Homo sapiens: one gene and its partner. The protein of the gene in region 2 purifies or fractionates together with the protein of the main gene of each other region. This does not show direct contact. Each region holds a gene or a part of one and is shown on either strand. Other genes may lie near its edges.

Region 1 (3,840 bases), on a different chromosome or scaffold from region 2:
ACAATTTGCAAAATTATAGTTAATATGGTATGACATTTTTGTTTTAATGTTTTTTTTTTTTTGAGATGGAATCTTGCTTTGTTGCCCAGGCTGAAATGCAATGCTGTGACCTCAGCTCGCTGCAACCTCCACCTTCCGGGTTTAAGTGATTCTCCTGTCTCAGCTGCCCGAGTAGCTGGATTACAGGTGCAGGCCACCATGCCTGGCTAAGTTTTGTATTTTTAGTAGAGACAAAGTTTCACCATGTTGGCCAGACTGGTCTTGAACTCCTGACCTCAGGTGATCCATCTGCCTCAGCCTCCCACAGTGCTGGGATTACAGGCGTGAGCCACCACATCAGGACTAAAAAAAGTTTAATGTTTATTTAGAAAACGTAAGAAAGCCATATGCTTTATCTTTTTTTTTTTTTTTGAGCCAGGATCTGACTCTGTCATCCAGGCTGGAGTGCAGTGCAGTGGTGTGATCATAGCTTACCGCAGCCTCGACCTTCTGGGCTCAAATGATGTTCCCACCTCAGCTTCCTGAGTAGCTGGGACTACTGGCATGCACCACCATGCCCAGCTAAATTTTTTTTAAGAGATGGGGGTCTCGCTATGTTGCCCAGGCTGGTCTTGAATTCCTGGAGTCAAGTGATCCTCCAACCTCGGCCTCCCAAAGTGCTGGGGTAATAGGCCTGAGCCGCTGTGCCCAGCCTGTTTTATCTTTTATTTAAAATATCATATTAAAATTTACAGATATCTACACGTAACTATATAAACACAAAAGAATATACACAAAACTGTTAAAAAGAGGCAACCTCTGGAGTAATGGATTATTCACAGAGATAGACGGGGAGTGAGAAAAAAGCATGCGGTGCAGAGGGAAAGACTTCAACTTTATTTTCTACAGATCTTTAGTAATTATTTTAAAAATAATAAGCATATGGATCTCTTGTCAAAGCAGAATCCTAGAATTCAGTCAATTTCTAATTGAATGCTAAACAGCTCCTGTTAAAAGCCTTGTTCAAAACAATTCATATTTAAAAGCATAGGCTATGGGGGAAATTAATCATTCATAACTCTAAAATGAACCTTTTTTCTTTTCTTTTTTTTTTTTTTTTGAGATGGAGTCTCCCTCTGTTGCCCAGGCTGGAGTGCAGTGATGCAATTTCAGCTCACCGCAACCTCCGCCTCCTGGGTTCGAGTGATTCTTGTGCTTCAGCCTCCTGAGTAACTGGGATTACAGGTGTGTGCTACTGCACCCAGCTAATTTTGTATTTTTAGTAGAGACAGGGTTTCACCATGTTGGCCAGGCTGGTCTCAAACTCCTGGCCTCAAATGATCTTCCCGTCTCAGCCTCCAAAAGTGCTGGAATTACAGGTGTGAGCCACCATGCCTGGCCTAAAATGAACCTTTAACATTACTTTGTCCCTGGGGGGTAAAAACCTCATAGACTCACTGGATTTTTCCTTTTACAAAAGGGCTGATGCCAAGAAATGGCCATCTGACTATGGAATTCCAAAGAGTGAGATAGCCTGTGGTGGCATGGACTTCACAGCTCAACTTTTTCATCAACTGCACCAACTATATCAGCCTGTTTCTGATACAGTTCATCTAACTGTTACATGCTATTTACCTTTAAACATTATTTTAAGCATCCTATAGAGTGTGTGTGTGTGTGTGTGTGCATATATTTTATTGAAAGTCACTCTCAAGAAGATATAGTGGTAACTATTATTACTCATAACAATGACCTGAAGCAGTTGTTTTAGCCAATCGTGGTTTTTACCAGAAATATAAGGACATCAAAATGAATTTTCCCTCTATCACTCATTTACTTATCCAACATATATTTACTGAGTGCTTATTCCATATACTTCCATAAACACTGGATAAACTCAAGTTATATAACATCCTCCCTCCAACCCAATTTCTTCCTTTAATTTGATTTTTGGGGAAGATAAAGGTGATGGAAGAAGAAAACAAAACAAAAAGGCAGGTAAAGGTTCTCTGTAGTCAAAGTACTCCATTCTGATAATAGCTCAGAAATTGTGTATGGTGAGGCAAAAAAAATCCTTTTTCTTCCAAATATGCTTCTCTTAAAAACTTACAAAACAACACATTTGACTCAAGTTAAAAAAATTAATATGTCAAATTATTTAAAAATTGTTTCCACATGTTTATAAAAGCCCTTAAAACAGTAACCACTAATTTATCTCAAGTACATAATGTTCATTGATATTCTTTCACATAATATAAAAAATTAGAAAAATACAAATAACAGCAACCTGTAAAACTCTGAGCACTCTGTCCTGGCAGGCCAATACAGGTGTGATACGAGATAATCTTTCCACTGGAAGGCAGATCACATCATTGATTTTATCCCCAGAAAGGTAATAATGTTGGTCTTTGCAGTCACAATAATGGTTATAGATGTAACTTGCACTGAGAAAGAGGTCTGAGCCAGATATGTGCCTGAGAACATTAAAATAGTAATTTTTAAAAATAAGCACAGGTACTGAATTTTTTTCAGAGATAAAAACAGAAAAATGTATACAGTTTACTAACATTTTATTATAGACTTAGAGAACACAGTTTTTAAAACTTTCTCCTAGTTAATTCCTAGTATTTTTGGTATAACACTGTTTTTGATTTTGAAAGCTGAAAATGAGGATGTTAAGGCCTCGGGCTTCTCAATAAAAACTGAGCTCAGAAAAATGGAAAACAAAGACAAGATAATGATAATTTAACTGTCTATATCCAAAGACAATTAATACATCAAAAAATGACTTCTTTGTGTACTATGTGCCAAGCACTATCTTAAGTGATTTTTATGTATTAGATCAATTAATCATCATAACTCTATAAAATAAGGACCATTATTATTCCTTTTACAGGTGAATAATAAAATGTAAAATAACTTGCCTAATGGCACCTAAGTATTAAGTAGTAGATTAGACTGCAACTCAGTTTTTTGCTCGAGTTAGCTTTCTTACTACCACACTAAATTGCCTGAAAAAGTCTATTTTAAGTGATTCTACCTCAAACTAAATGATAAACAGCAGAAAAAAAAAGATTTCATTAGAACTTTATCTTGAAAAAAGAAATGAAAACAAGTTTATTTCATATTACATTTAACAAAATTTAGTCAATAGTCATAACTATATTCTAATTCTTAGACTGAACTGAGTTTTCACTTGGGTGAGCTAAAATGTCTTGACAAAAATTATATTTAAGTGTGATATATTTTTCACTTCTAGGTTGTTATTACCATATTTATCATAAAGAGGGTAATTTTATTTGAATGTTTCATGTATTCCTCTACCTCCAAGTTCTATTAAAAAATTTTATATTAAAATTATTCTCTGAAGAGCTTATCCTATAATAATCCTCCCTGATTTTCTATTCTTCAGTTATTAAGTGGCCTCACTTTGTGGCTCTGCATATGATTGAATAGTCCTCTTACTATTTTTATCAATTTCATGAAATTCTCTATGTTTTTCAAAATTTTAAATTCCATTTTGAAACCAATCTGTATTATATTTGCATTATATTGGCCAAAGTACTATTTAGCAATCTCTATTGTTGACATGAGTGGGGATACATGGCAACATTAAGCAGGAAAGGATATGTGGTGACTAATGTTAAGTGGTCAGTTTCCTTACTGAATATCTTCAAGTTATAACTTTTGTTTTCCTATAAAACCTTACAAATGTGGGGATTCAGACAATCAATTTTCAAAAATTGAGTAAAGAACTTTTCTATCCCATCTTTGCCACTCTAGTAAAAACATTTAAGAAACCACTTGAAGAGACTGTTACTGAGAAACTCTCTATCTTTCTCACACTACTATCCATATAAC
Region 2 (2,705 bases):
TCCAGGCCGGCCAGAGGCTCGGGCTCGAGCATCCGCAGCTGGTTGCGTTGCAGCTGCAGGGTGCGCAGGCCAGTGGGCAGGCCCATGGGCAGCCGGGTTAGCTGATTCCCTGCCAGGTCGAGGCTGCGCAGGGCACGCAACCGGCGGAAGGCCCGGTGGTGCACACGGGCGCTGGCCAGGCGGTTATAGGCCAGGTTAAGCTCCGTCAGGCCCGGTGTGGCGACCAGGTCACGGGCACCCAGCGCGGCCACGTGGTTGTGGGGCAGCACCAGGGCACGCAGGCGGCGGGGCAGGGCTGGAGGCACGCGGTCCAGCCCATTGCCATAGAGGTGCAGCGTGTGCAGGCCCCGCAGCGGCCGCAGAGCCCCGGCGGGCAGCCCTGAGCTCCCCAGCTGGTTGTGCTGCAGCAACAAATAGCGCAGACCACGCGCCCCGTGCAGCCGAGCCGCCTCCACCTGCCGGATGCGGTTGCGGCCCAGGTGCAGGATAGCCAGGGTCCGGGGCAGGCCGGCGGGCACTGTGGTCAGCTGGTTGTGGGAGAGATCCAGGTATTCAAGGCTATGCAGCTTGCTGGAAGGAGAGAGGGTCGGTGTTAGGTGGGGCACTTGGAGTGGGGTGCCTGACAGATTTTGGCGGGGAGGCTGGGGAGTGGTCCTGAGACAGATTTAAGCTGGAGATTTTGACTTGGGAGTGATGCGTGGAGAGAGCTGGGTGGGAGGTAAACTTGGGGTGCCCAGGGCAGATTCCAGCCTGAGAGTTAGCTATGGGGGTGACCAGGGTAGAGCCGAGATGGAAAGGCATGTGAGACTTACGATGTCAGTGCAGGGCTGTGGGGAACAGGGACACCTACCCAGTGCTCTGCCGAGCCCAGTGAGCAGCAGGCACTCAGTAAATGAGGCCGTGGCTTAGGAGCCAGTCAGGGAAGGGGGACTGAAGGTTGGGACCCCCGACTGTAAATTCTCAGCCCCTGCTGCCCCCCAACCAGCCTGTACCTGAAGGTGGTGGCATCCAGGCCACTGTCTGTCAGCTGGTTGTGCTGGAGGTAGAGCTCACGGAGTTGAGTCTGGCGGCTCAGGGCTCCTCGGGGCACCTTGGAGATGAGATTGTTCTGGAGAAGGAAGAAGAGAATGAGACTTGAGTCTGGGATGAGGGCAGCGGGAAGCCACAGACGGCTCTTGAGTAAGGGAGTGACGAGGAGCTTGCCTTGAGCTCAAAGCGATTTCCAATAAAGTGATTCAAAGAAGGATAACTCTGACCACTGGCATTCTGAGGGGCAATTGAGAAGAATGGAAAGCTAGGAACTGGAGGGGTCCCCCTGGAAAGAGGTGAAGAGAGTCTGGCCCGGGGTGGGACCTACAGCAGGGCTACCTGCAGGTGGAGCCGCTCGAGTGAGGGCGGCAGGCTGGGCGGCAGGTAGCTGAGCTGGTTGTTGGAGAGGCTGAGGGTGGCGATGGCCTCGGAGCCGCGGAAGGCGTCGGGGGGCAGGCCAGCGTTGCTCAGCTGGTTGTTGTGGAGGTACACGGACCTGAGGAGAGCCAGGCTCCGGCCACCAGCCTGCCCCTCGCCTCCTACCACCCCACTCCCGCACCACACCCTGCTCAGGGTCGCCTTCAGTGTGTGTGTGTGTGTGTGTGTGTGTGTGCGCGCGCATGTGTGGAGTCTGTGTGGGAATGTAATTGTGTATGTGTGCATGTGACTGTGCGTAGGTGTGCAGGTGAGTGTGCATGTGTGTTGTATGAATAGACGTGTGTGCATGTGTGAGCAGTGTGCATGTGTAAGTGTAATGAGTGCATATGTGGAGTGTGTGTGCACGTGTGTATGTGATTGTAAGAGTGTGTGGGCGTGCATGTGTGTATGTATATGCAAGTGTGTGCTATGTGCCTGTGCATAAGTGTGCATGGGTGAGTGTGTGCATGTGATTGTAAGTGTGGGTGTGCATGTGTGCATGCCTGTGCATAAGTGTGCATGTGATTGTGTGTGTGCAGCCGAGTGTGCAACTGTGTGTATGCATGTATGTCCATGTGTGCATGTGATCATGTGCAAAAGTGTGAGCATTGTGTACATATGTGCATGTGTGTGCTTGTGTGTGCATGTGATTGCGTGTGCATGCATGAGTGTGTGCCTGTGTGCATGTGGTTGGAAGTGTGTGCAGGTGTGTATGTGAGTCTGTGTGTGTGCTTGTGTGTGCATGTGATTGTGTGTGCATGAGCATGTGTTCATGTGGTTGTGTGTGCAGGTGTGTATGTGAGTCTGTGTAAGTGTGTGTGTGTGTGTGTCCCTGCACATACTGTCTCCACCTCAGTCTGGAGTTCTGACACAGCATACAGGGCCCTGTCTCCCCGCTCACTCTCCTCCCAGGGTAGAACTATGCCCTCTTCCCACTCCCCAAGGCTAGGGATCTGTCCCTGGTTAAGCCCTCCAGGGCAAGGCATTTTGTTTCTGTTTTTGTTTTTAATTTTGAGACAGAGTCTCACTCTGTCGCCCAGGCTTGAGTGCGGTGGCACGATTTCGTCTCACTGCAAACTCCACCTCCTGGGTTCAAGCCAGTCTCCTGCCTCAGCCTCCTGAGTGGCGGGGATTACAGGCGCACACCACCACCCCCAGCTAATTTTTGTATTTTAAGTAGAGACAGGGTTTCATCATGTTGGCCAGGCTGGTCTCGAACTCCTGACCCCAGATGATCCTCCCACCTTGGCCTCCCAAAG

What was found.
Region 1: the proteins of PODNL1 (region 2) and BBS7 purify together in Homo sapiens (co-immunoprecipitation; one large-scale study listed by IntAct). This does not show direct contact.

Annotation. Positions count from the first base shown.
Region 1 is NC_000004.12:121,856,726-121,860,565, forward strand, and holds part of BBS7 (BBSome complex member BBS7), read right to left. Parts: intron 2,454-3,840; coding exon 2,267-2,453; intron 1-2,266.
Region 2 is NC_000019.10:13,932,886-13,935,590, forward strand, and holds part of PODNL1 (podocan-like protein 1 isoform 4 precursor), read right to left. Parts: intron 1,526-2,705; coding exon 1,369-1,525; coding exon of another isoform or gene 1,358-1,368; intron 1,109-1,357; coding exon 993-1,108; intron 571-992; coding exon 1-570.